Linked DNA regions of Homo sapiens: all the other regions are linked to region 1. The links come from fine-mapping of genetic effects on gene expression. A gene starts in region 1. Each other region holds a variant in brackets. All regions are shown on one strand. Distances are between the middles of the regions. Region 1 holds the start of CXorf38 (chromosome X open reading frame 38). Region 2 overlaps MED14 (mediator complex subunit 14). Region 3 has its middle 14 kb from the start of MED14OS.

The links. PIP is the estimated chance that this variant, and not a neighbour inherited with it, causes the effect. A credible set is the group of variants that fine-mapping cannot tell apart.
Region 2: its variant is the best candidate, but not a certain one, in a credible set for the expression of CXorf38 in whole blood (TOPMed, PIP 0.77).
Region 3: its variant is the best candidate, but not a certain one, in a credible set for the expression of CXorf38 in whole blood (TOPMed, PIP 0.89).

The regions. Positions count from the first base shown.
Region 1 is chrX:40,645,726-40,650,055 of GRCh38, forward strand. CXorf38 (chromosome X open reading frame 38) reads right to left here and starts at 1,836. Exons shown (of 7, transcript NM_144970.3): 1 at 1,580-1,836; 2 at 1,282-1,416. The coding sequence starts at 1,795. MED14 (mediator complex subunit 14) reads right to left here. Exons shown (of 31, transcript NM_004229.4): 31 at 2,580-4,330. RefSeq lists an enhancer at 1,017-1,216 and silencers at 1,467-1,616, 1,737-2,036, 1,872-2,052.
Region 2 is chrX:40,713,527-40,717,526 of GRCh38, forward strand. It overlaps MED14 (mediator complex subunit 14), which reads right to left. Exons shown (of 31, transcript NM_004229.4): 4 at 1,011-1,184; 5 at 252-381. Among named protein-coding and RNA genes, the nearest start is that of MED14, 20 kb to the right of the region's middle. The variant A/G (reference allele first, on the strand shown) is at 2,081.
Region 3 is chrX:40,747,852-40,752,207 of GRCh38, forward strand. No RefSeq gene overlaps it. Among named protein-coding and RNA genes, the nearest start is that of MED14OS, 14 kb to the left of the region's middle. RefSeq lists enhancers at 1,969-2,048, 2,119-2,208. The variant G/A (reference allele first, on the strand shown) is at 2,055.

The DNA of each region.
Region 1 (4,330 bases):
CTCACCTCAGCCTCCTGAGTAGCTGGGACTACAGGCATGCACCACCACACCCAGCTAATTTTTGTATTTTTTTGTAGAGACGGGGTTTTGCCATGTTATCCAGGGTGGTCTTGAACTCCTGAGCTCAAGCCATCCTCCCACCTTGGCCTCCCAAAGTGCTGGGATTACAGGCATGAGCCACCGCGCCCGGCCCCAATTCCTTTCATTTTTTTTTTTTTTTTTTTTTTTTTTTTTTTTTTTTTTTTTTTTTGAGACGGAGTCTCGTTCTGTCGCCCAGGCGGGAGTGCAGTGGCGCGATCTCCGCTCACTGCAAGCTCCGCCTCCCGGGTTCACGCCATTCTCCTGCCTCAGCCTCCCGAGTAGCTGGGACTACAGGCGCCCGCCACTGCGCCCGGCTAATTTTTTTGTATTTTTAGTAGAGACGGGGTTTCACCGTGGTCTCGATCTCCTGACCTCATGATCCGCCCGCCTCGGCCTCCCAAAGTGCTGGGATTACAGGCGTGAGCCACTGCGCCCGGCCGTCCTTTCATTTTTGAGATTGGGGAGCACAAGCTGGCCCAGTGTCACACCACGGCAGCTGATCCAGGACTCAGATCATCTGCTTCCCAGGCACTGCTCCTTTCCAGTGCCCACCCTGTGCCTGCTGATAACTACTGGCATGTAGACTGACTGCTAAAGTCAATTTGTGTTAGGAAGCCACTTCTGGCTGTCCCTCTCCGTCCCTTACTGGGCAAAAAAATTTCCTACTCGATCTACTTAGTAAGTGACATTGCCAAGATCTGAAGACAGATCCGGCTGCCTACCCCATTCCCAGCTACCCAAAGTGCCTTTAACTGGGCACTTAAGGTGCTATTTTAGCCCTAACTTCCCTTGGCTTACTCTGTCATCCTTACGGCATCCTATAGCCAAAAAAGAGCTGATGAGCTGTTCAGCGAGCCTTACCCTCAAACAGGCCACACAAGAGTCTCCCTCCCTCCCTGCCTGTGCTCATGATGCTCGCTCTGCATCTTGCCCCAGTATCTCTTGTAGAACTCTTTCCTGTAACTTTCCAAGCAGGGGTAACAAACTCAAATGCCCTCAGGAAGCAGACGGGTAGAAGAAAGCTTCTACTTCACTAAGCTGGGTTGGGTCCCGCATACCACCCCTGAACCGCCTAGACCCTTGATCAATCTCTCTCTCTGCATCTGTTTATGAGGCCCCGGCGACCACAAGACCAGATAGCCACCCCGAGTGCTGGGTGACCCGCCGCTTCCTCCTTCCGTCCCCGCCTCAGGCGCTTACCTTGGCCACCTCCCAGGCGTCCACGGGCCAGCGGCCCGGCCGGCAGTTTCCCCAGTGCACATCTCCATTTCTGTTGACATGATGTCTCAAAATCTCCCTTTTCCATTCAGCGCACACCTGACACTGAGGCTGAAACTACAGGGGGCGGCGGTGAGGAGGGGCCCAGGAGGGAGGGACGTCGCGGTGGGCCCCGCATCGCGGAGGGAACAGGACACTTGCGCTCTGGGTCTGGGACAGGAACGGGGATGAGGAGGGGTGGGGTGGGGGCGGTGGTCAAGGCCCCGAGCCAGGTGCTCACCTGGCGGGCGCGAGGGCTGCACCGTGAGCCGCCGCGGCAGACGGCGCGGGGCCCCAGGCCGGGGGCTGCGGCGAGTAGGCCGCGGTGGAAGGAGAGCACCTCGCGGCCGACGAAACCCTGCAGGCAGCTGCGCAGCAGTAACAGGCAGTGGCCCGCCTTCACCCAGTTCTTGTACTCGGCGCAGTTGAGGCGCGCCGCTAGCTCCGACAGCACCATGTCTCCCACTTGGAACCAGGAGGTTGCGGGGCGTGGCGGACGGCAGTGCGCAGGCGCGGAGCCTGGGAAGTACCCGAGGCAGCGGCGCCTGCGCCGGCGGCAGCGACGCCTGCGCCTGCGCGGCGCGGTGCCACCGATCCCGGGGCGGGGCATCTTGACTTCCGGGGCACGTCGGCTCCACCCCACTTGGGTGACGTCTGACGTCTGACGTCTAACAACTTTGGTGCTTGGGGAAGCAGTTAACTATTTGAAACCCTTAGGCCCTCTTCGTCCCCCAAACAGAGACCCTGTCAGCATCCGATTCGACTCCCTCTCCTAATGTAGGGCACTTCTGTTTTAACTTTTTTTTATTGTCCAGATGTACAAGGTGCTCAGGGCACATTGCTTGAATCGTGTATGTTCTTTGCATTATACAATTCTAGAGTTACTGGTTCCTAAGCCCACAGACCAGCTGTAGCAAATTGAGGTATTAGTGAAACGTGACCGCTGGCTGCCTGCGGTGTGCCAAGCTAACCCAAAACTCAAAATCCCCCGCCACTGGACCACCCAGAAGGGGGCGTTTGCCTGTTTAGGGCAACACATCACTTGGATTCTAGAAGGCTGCACACCTGAGCCAGATAAGGGCATCCTGAAGCACCTAGCAAAGGTTAGACGATAATTATCTAGTATTCTTGATTATATGATAATTAGTGCTCCTTGCACATGGAAGTCTGATTTAAGTTCCAAAGAAGTGCCACAAAGGTCAGAAGGCACTGGGATTGTCAACTCCAAGTGACAAGTCAGGTCAGTTTTAGTTGTTTTTAATGAGCTTTCTGAGCTTGGAAAACATGTCAAAATTGTGTGTAGTTAAAAGCCTCTGAGGAAAGAGTCTAAACATTAAACCTTCCCGACTGTGGTTCACAGCAAAAATGTCCAGTGTTTAGGAGCACTAGCTCAGACTCAAACTGCCCCTTCTTAGCAGTTTGATCTTAAGCAACCTTAATTTGATCTCAGGCAAATTACATTTCTCTGGGCCTCCATTTACTCATTTTTAAGAAGAGGATATCAATAACCTACCACATTGGGTTGTTGTGAGGATTAAATACACATTGAAATATTAAGAAAATGCCTAGCACACAGTAAGCTCTCAGTAAATACTTGCTATTATTTTATATTGACCTAAATATGCCCTTTCATCAATCAGTTATATTCTTGGGCAAGGTATTTTAACAAATCACTGGCCACTTGGAAGTGGAGGCAACTTGCAGAAAATTGTGAGCATACCATGGAGTTCCTGGAGTTGTGCAGCACAGTGCTGGCTGGCCTCTGCTAACTTTGTCTTAATAACCTCAATGCTAAATCCATCCTAAGTAAATTTAAATCACATCCTTAGACACACTGTCCATTCTCAAACCGAATGAAAAAAAAATTCCACAAGAAACAATGAAATACACATTAACATTTTCCCTCTATGTCCCTTGAATGTAAGTTCTCTTAAAATTTTCTGTATACTGATTTTATATCAAGAACACTTGGATGATAAATAAACATTAAGGTAAAATGTAATAGGCACTTCTTTTGGGGGGAAAAACTATGAAAGGAACAACTTTTTATATTGAAATTGCATCAGAATCCAGGGTAGCAAAGTTATAACTTCTTGAAGTTATCAAATTAACCACAGTCCAAAGAATGGCTGTTAGTATCCTTTGGCTGAACAGATTACTGTGTTAATTAGAACACAGTTATTAGTGGTTCTTAAATTCAAAGTCATATAAATTTTAGTTTATGCTTGCACTTAACTCACTCAGTTAATTTTCAAACATAAGGTTCGACTCCTGTTATTAGCGACTTGACACGTTCTGCTGAAGCTCTCACTTTTCTTCTAATTCTGAAAGTACTTTTATACATTCTGAAATGGCATTTCAGCAGATGGAAAAATGAAGGTGGCAAATCAGGACCAATTTCTTATTTCAAGGTTAAATTAATACTAAACCAGACTATTAATGAAAACATCTTCATCAAAATTAACTAGAGAGTTGGTAGTTCTCTGAAACTTTGTATAAATTTTATTTATTACTGTAAATACTAAAATCACATTGAAAACACCTTAAAGTTAAGTCCCAACCCGATTATTAGAGAAAATCACTTGGGCATCCAGTCCCCTTGATCGAACCTGGGTAACAAAAGAGGCAAAAGACATGATTTGTGATGAAACTTACTATTCAAATGCTAAATGTTTTCAAGCTTTAATAAGGTATATATCAATTCCAAGTACCAAGCATAATATAAAAATTCAAATTCATGGGTTTACTCTTAATAAGCATCAAAAGCAAATTTTGCGCACTGAATCCTATCTTACTCTTGATTGGCACAATGCATTCAGAGATGAGTTATAATTAGGAAAAAAGAGTGTCCACTGAATGCATCATGTGTAAAAATGCAATTAACATTTCAAAACCACATTAAAAGGGAAAATACCTAAAAAGTTAACTCTTAATAAAATTATTTGAAACAATATTATCCTGCAGATAAAAATACATTTCTTGTATATACATG
Region 2 (4,000 bases), 68 kb after region 1:
CTGCCTCCCAGGTTCAAGCAATTCTCATGCCTCAGCCACCCGAATAGCTGGGATTACAGGTGCGGGCCACCGCACCCAGCTAATTTTTGTATTTTTAGTAGAGATGGGGTTTCACCATGTTGGCCAGGCTGGTCTCAAACTCCTGACCTCAAGTGATCTGCCTGCCTCAGTCTCCCAAAGTGCTGAGATTACAGGCATGAGCCACCGCACCTGGCCATCAACTCTTAAAAAAATAAATTTCAGATACATACCAACTGTAAGATTTGCTAACTGAGGAGGAAGATCTGTGGTTACAAGCCGATGTCTAAGAATCTGATTCAGCTGATGGAGTGTGGCTTGTTTTTCAATTTTGGTAATTGGGTCTGGAGGAATAATTTTGTCCTGCAAAAAAATTTAAGTGATTTTTAAATAATGTACAAACGGGGATTTTTTTTTTCAATCTTTTCCTGTCTTTATACAGTGTTGCGTACTTTACCTAAGAGAATCTTAACACTCATTTCTGCAGTCTACTTACAAAAACAATGGCCATTACTATCATGCATAAGAGCAACAATGATTCTAGTCATTTAGCTAAGATCATAATACAACATGACCTCCCTTAATGCTCTATTTATAAACCAACTAAATATCACTTGATAGCTTCCACAAGTTCTTACAAGTATAAAATACAATATGGCACCAAGTCAGTAAACTACCAAAACAATAAAAGTTTAAAACACTTTCAAAAAGCAACTAGCATGTAGCATTTTCACATCTGAAATAGATGTTATGTCTGCACATCCGCGCATCCCTGGGGGAAAAAAAAATAAAACCTTCACCCATTTTGATATCTACTCACATCTGGCCCCAACTTATTTCAAAAAAGCACAACTTTAGTTACAGAGAAAAAAAGCAAACTATATGTACTGTTTGTTTTAACAATGTTTTTTGCTGGGCTACTTAATAATACAATCCAATCCAGTGCCAAAACCTTTAGTTTTTAGGAACATGGGGGCAAGCAAAGAACTTACCCTAATGCAGGTTGGCAGCCGTGGGTAAGATCCAGTAGTTAGTACATCAATGGCATATGGGATGGCAAAACTAGGCAGGCGTGCATGGACCAGAGCATCTCTAGCTAACGAGGCCAGGCGATCAGCAGTGTCCACAAACAGGATGGCTTGCTGATCTAAAAAGCTTGAAATCATCTTTAAAGTAAAGGGTAAATGTATTAAGCATCCCTGAAAACTATCTCCTTTTCACACTAAATATTGTTAAATCATTCCAAAGTAAACTTCAAGGGGAATTAGTATCAGTTTTCCATATTTCAAAGTAGTTCTTCAAATATTCTCCAGTAACTTGAAGAAGAAATATTTAATACACTAGTATTTGATATTAAGAGCAATAATTTTCTGTCACTTTAAGTAAAAGCTTTCTAATTCATTTCTCCATCCTTAACATTACACACACATAATATCAAAGTTAGGAAAAATAAGTAGAATAAAATGGTTTTTTCCTCTTACAGACTTCCAGAGTTGGTTGGTAATGAAGGAGTTAAAAGCATGGACTCCTAGACCTAGACTGCCTTGTTCTCCATTTTAACTCTGCTACTTACCAGTCTTGTAACCTTGGGCAAGTAACTTAACCTCTTTGTGCCTCAGCTTTTTTCAACTGTAAAATGGAGGTGATCATGATTCCCAATCTCATAAAGTTGTTCTCTGTATTAAGAGATAATGCAAAATAGAGAACACAGAAATCCACACATAGCCAACTCATTTTCCAAAAAAGCACCAAGAACATACACTGGGGAAAGGACAGTTTCTTTAATAAATGGTGATGGGAAAACTCGATAACCATCATATGCAAAAGAATGAAACTAGACCCCCATCTCTCACACTATACAAAAATGAACTGAAAATGAATTAAAGGCTTAAGCATGAGACCTGAGACTATGAAACTACTAGAAGAAAGCATTGGAAAAATGCTCTAAGACATTGGCCTGGGCTGGGTGCGGTGGCTCAGGTCTGTAATCCCAGCACTTTGGGAGGCCAAGGTGGGCAGGTCACGAGGTCAGGAGATTGAGACCATTCTGGCTAACATGATG[A/G]AACCCTGTCTCTACTAAAAATACAAAAAATTAGCTGGGCGCGGTGGCACGAGCCTGTAGTCCCAGCTACTCGGGAGGCTGAGGCAGGAGAATTGCTTGAACCCGGAAGGCGGAGGTTGCAGTGAGCCAAGATCGTGCCACTGCACTCCAGCCTGGGCGGTAGAGCGAGACTCCGTCTCAAAAAAAAAAAAAAAAAAAAAAAAAAAGGACAGACAACAAAAGCAAAAATAAACAAAAGAGATTATATCAAGCTAAAAAGCTTCTGCACAACAAAAGAAATAATCAACAGTGTGAAGAGACCACCCACAGAATGGGAGAAAATGTCTGCAAAATATCCATCTGACAAGGGATTAATATCCAGAATACATAAGGAACTCAACTCAATAGCAAAATAAAACCAAATAACTCCATTTAAAAAATGAGCAAAATACCTGAATAGACATTTCTCAAAAGAAGACATACAAATGGCCAAAAGGTATTATGAAAAAATGCAACATTACTAATCATCAAGGAAATGTAAATAAAAACCACAATGAGATATCATCTCACCCCAGTTAAAATGACTATTATCAAAAAGACAAAAAATAACAGATGCTTGTGAGGATGTGGAAGAAGGGGAACCCTCACGCTGTTGGTGGGAATGTGAAGTACTACAGCCACTACAGAGAACACTATGGAGGTTCCTCAAAAAAAAACTAAAAATAGGCTGTGTGTGGTGGCTCACATATGTAATCCTAGCATTTGGGGAGACAGAGGCAGGAGGATTGCTTGAGCCCAGGACTTGCAGACCAACCTGGACAACATAGGGAGACCCTGTCTCTACAAAAAATTAAAAAACAAAAAAATTAGCCTGGCATAGTGGTGTATGCCTGTGGTCTCACAGCTACTAGGGAGGATCACTTGAGCCCAGGAGGTTGACGCTGCAAAGAGCCATGACTGTGCCACTGCACTCCAGTCTGGGTGACAGAATGAGACCCTGTCTCAAAAAAAAAAAAAAACCACTAACAACTAAAAATATAATTACCATATGATCCAGCAATTCCACTGCTGAGTATATATATATTCAAGAGAAAGGAAATCAGCATACCAAAAAGATATCTGCACTCCCAGGTTTACTGCAGCACTACTCACAATAGCCAAGATACAGAATCAACCCAAGTGTCCATCAACAGATGAATAAAGAAAATACAGTACATATACACAATGGAATACTATTCAGCCATAAAAAAGAATGAAAGCCTGCCGTTTGCAACAGCACGTATGGAAGTGAAGGTCACTATGGTAAGTGAAATAAGCCAGGCACAGAAAGACAAGTATTGCACATTCTCTCTCCTATGTGGGAGTTAAAAAAGTGGATAACATGGAAGTAGAGAGTAGAATGCTGGTTAGGAGAAGCTGGGAAGGGGGGAGGAGGTATGAAGAAAAGTTGGTACAAAAATATAGTTAAAAGGAATAAGTTCCAGTATTTAATAGTAGAGTAGGGAAATTATAATTAACAATAATTTATTGTATATTCAAAACGACCAGAAGAGAAGAACTGTAACATTCCCAACACAAAGAAAAATGTCTGAGGTAATTAATATCCCAATTATCCTGCTTTGATCACTATGTACATGTATCAAAATATCACATGTACCCTCAAAATATGTACAACTATGATATATCAATTGAAAAAAAAAAGAGTTAACACATAAAAAACCTTTAGAACAGTGCCTAGAAAGAACATAGAAAACACTCCAAAACACCCATTATGAGATACAGGTCAACTTCATGCCCAATACAGAAATCCTTTCCATCAGTTTTCTACCCAATGCATTTCATAAGGATACCTAAACTAGTAGAGCTCATCACAGAGCTAAAAACTACCTCCCTAAAACCTTTATCTTCTAGTTCATGGTTTTTTTGTTGTTGTTGTTTCAT
Region 3 (4,356 bases), 100 kb after region 1:
CATGCATGTGCATGTGTACACACGTGTACATTTACACACATATTTGTTTCCACATCTGTCTCTCTCTCTCTCTCTCTCTCTCTCTCTCTCTCTCTCTCTCTCTATATATATATATATATATATATATTAAAGCCATGAGTTCATACTGATACCTCATATTTCAATCCAACACCAGAGGTTCATTCTAGTCTTCCCCCTTTCCATATTTGTAACTTCCTTTTCTGACAGTGAACAATCTGGCTCAATATACTTATTTGCTCAATCCTAGAATACATAGAAAGTCGTTTCAGAATAGATAATCTATACCATTGTGAAAAACTAGCCTTCTGGGTTTGGAGGACAGTGGCAATACTGCCTCATTCTGAATCTCCCTACTCACCCCTCTCTCCACAAATAAACCTCATGAAATAAAGCAACATATGACTGATATAGTTTAGCTGTGTCCCCATCCAAATCTCATCTTGAATTGTAGCTCCCACAATTCCCACGTGTCATGGGAGGGACCTGGTGGGAGGTAATTGAATCATGGGGGTGGGTCTTTCTTGTGCTGTTCTCATGATAGTGAATAAGTCTCACGAGATCTGATGGTTTTGTAAGGGGGAGTTTCCCTGCACAAGTTCTCTCTCATCTGCTGCCATGTAAGATGTGCCTTTCACCTTCCACCATGATTGTGAGGCCTCCCCAGCCACATGGAACTGTTGAGTCCATTAAACCTCTTTTTCTTTATAAATTACCCAGTCTCAGGTATGTCTTTATCAGCATCACGAAAATGGACTAATACAGTGACTTATTCCTTCATCAGTATTTGGTAAAAGAGAATATTCTGATGTTTAAATTACTTGTAAGCAAAGAAATAAACCAAATTCTAATAGAGCTCCTGCCATCTGCCTGCTGCTGCACGCCTGTGGGTGCAGAGTGCAGAGGAGAAGAGGCGTAAAGAAATGCCATGAAAAAATATAGTGGGGCATAGAGGACTTGGATAAGGCACGGACAAAATAACCCTTAGAAAGAGAAAGCCAGATAAGATAAATGCCAAAATATAGAATATAGGTCAGGATATGGTAAGTTCATGTTAGTTTGTTATGCAACGATAGAAAACGAATATGGATTTTAGTACCTGAAAGTGTGGTGCTGCTATAAGAAATACTTAAAAATGTGGAAGTGTCTTTGGAACCAAGTTTGAAGAGGATTTTGTGGAGCATGATAACAGCCTAAGTTGCCTTGAACAGAATGTTAGTAGAAATATGGACTATGGGAAGGCGGCTGGTGAGGCCTCAGAAGGAAGTGAGGCTCATGTTATAAGAATCTGGAGGAAGTGAGATCCTTGTTATGTATTGGCAGCAAGCTTAGCAAAACTGAAACTTGTGTCCTGCAGTTATTTGGAAGGTAGAATTTGAAAGCAATGAACTCACATATTTAGCTGAAAAGATTTCCAAGTAAAGTTGTTTTTGCTTGTTGTTTTTTTTTTGGTTTTTTTTTGTTTTTTAGAGGCAGGGTCTCCCTCTGTTGCCCAGGCAGGAGTGCAGTGGTGCAATTATGGCTCACTGCAGCCTCAAACTCCTGGGCTCAAATGATCCTCCTGCCTCAGCCTCCTGAGTAACTGGGACTACAGGCACGTGCCACAACACCTGGCTAATTTATTTTTATTTTTATAGAGATGGGGTCTCACTGGATTGGTCAAGTAAAGTGTTGAAGGTGCCATCTAGTTTCTTCTTGCCGATTATAGTAAAACCCAAGAAGAGAGTGACAAATTGAGGAAAGGACTGTTAAACACAAAGGAATTGGGTAATTCTCAGCATATCAAGATTGACGAAGACACTAAAATTAAGAGACAAAAGGTTAGAGTATTTGATCACAAGAGGTTTATGCTGTGCCTCACAGATCTCATTCAAATCAGTGGCTTCTAGGAAGCTTAAGGGTGTCCCTGAGCCATCTCAGCAGCAGCCAAAGCTAGAGAAGGAATGATCTCTACCAGATTTGTGGACATGGCTTCTGTTCAATGTAGTGAATTCCTATGACATCCACTCAAAGCAGACAAGGTTCTTGAGAAATTT[G/A]TATCAGCAGAAATACTGCCAGCTTGGACTGAAAGTGACAGAGTTTGAAGTGAAAGGAAGCTGTCAAACTCCCAGAATTCCTCTGGCAGAAAGGAGGTTGATAAAACTACTCAGCTGTAAACACATTCTACCTTTCATGAAAAAAGGACGGCTCAGAGAGAGGAACTGAAAGCCCAGGGGGCACAGGCGAGAGCCAGAGGGCAGAACTGAAAGGCACGTGGAATTATTTCCAAGTCTTGAAACCCAAGGGAGTTTCCCAGCTTTTAAAACTGCTTTGGACTGGTGATCCTTTTTACCTTCCATTTTCCTCCCTTTTGAACTAGAATGTCTGTAACTCTTACCCTATGCCTGTTCCATCATCATGTGTTGGCAATAGATAACTTGTTTCTACAGTTTCATAGGTCCACAGATGGAGAGAAATTGTGCCAGGCGTCTCACCCACACCTAATCTAAGTGATTTGATGATGAGATATTGGATTTTTGAATTCATGAGATTTAGATGAGAGTTTGGACTTTGAGTTTAAGCTGTAATGGTATTGACACCCTTGGCAAATTTGGGAGAAGGTGAATGTATTTTGCATTTAGGAGAGACATGAATCATTGGGGGCCAGAGGGCAGACTGTGGTAAACAGAATTGTTCTTTTTATTTTTTTATTTTTCTTTTGAGACAGGGTCTTGCTGGGTCGCCTAGACTGGAGTGCAGTGGCGTGATCATAGCTCACTGCAACCTCGAACTCCTGGGTTCAAGTGATCCTCCCTCCTCAGCCTTCTGAGTACTGGGACTACAGGCATGCATCAACACACCTGGCTAATTAAAAAAAAAAAAAAACTGTAGAAACAGGAGTCTCCCTGTGTTGACCAGGCTGGTCTCGAACTCCTGGCCTCAAGTGATCCTCTTGCCTCAGCCTCTCGTAGTGTTGGGATTACAGGCATGAGCCACCTTGCCTGACCTTGATGTTTGATATATGTTTACATTGTGGAACGATTAAATCAAGCAAATTAACAAATTCACCACCTCAACTACTTAAACATCTCCGCTTTCCATGTCTACCCCTCTCCTCCAGCCTCTGGGAATTGCCATTGTACTCTCTACTTGTATGAATTTGACTTTTTAAAATTTCACATGTAGGTGAGATGGTGTGATATTTGTCTTTCTGTGCCTGGCTTATTTCACTTAACATAATGTCCTCCATGTTCATCCATGTTGTCACATGTGACAGAATTTTATTCTTTTTAAAGGCTGAATAGTATTCCATTGTGTATATATACCACATTTTAAAAAATCCATTCATCCATTGATGGACACTTACCTTGCTTTCAAATCTTACCCTCTGTGAATAATGCTGCAATGAACATGGGAGTACAGATATCCACTTTGACATACTGATTTTAATTCCTTTGGATTCCTTTTTTTTGAGACAGAGTCTCTCTCTGTCACCCAGGCTGGAGTGAAGTGGCGCGATCCTGGCTCACTGCAAGCTCCACCTCCTGGGTTCACGCCATTCTCCTGCCTCAGCCTCCCGAGTAGCTGGGACTACAGGCGCTCGCCACCACGCCTGGCTAATTTTTTTGTATTTTTAGTAGAGACAGGGTTTCACTGTGTTAGCCAGGATTGGATTCCTTTTAATCCCAGTAGTGGGATTGCTGGATCATATGGTAGTTCTATTTATTGTGGGGCTTTTTGAGGAAATTCCATAATATTTTTCATAATGGCTATATTAATTTATATTTCCACCAACAGTGTACAAGCATTCCCTTTTCTCTACACCCTTGTTAACACTTATTATCTTTTGTTTTTCTGATAATAATTCTATTATCACCTATTCTATTATAGATTTCATGATATTCTATCATATCACCTCACATTCGGGTGTAAGATGATATTTCCATTGTGCTTTTAATTTACATTTCCCTGATGATTAGGGATGATAAGTGTTTTTCATATATCTGTTGAACATTGGTGTATCTGTTTTTGAGAAATGTCAAGTCATTGGTCCGTGTTTTAACTAGTTTGTTTTTTTTTCTTGCTATTGAGTTGTTTGAGTTCCTTATTTTGGATATTAGTTTCTTGTCAGATGTATGGTTTGCAAATATTTTCTCCCAGTCCTTGAGTTGTCTCTTCATCCTGTTAATGGTTTCCTTTGCTGTGTGGAAGCTTTTTAATTTGATCCAATCCCATTTGTTTATTTTTGCTTTTGTTGCCTTTGCTTTTGGGGCTATTGTGGAGCATTTCCCCCATGTTGTGGAGCATTTTCCCCCATGTGTTCTTCCAGTAGTTTTACAGTTTCAAGCTTTATGTTTA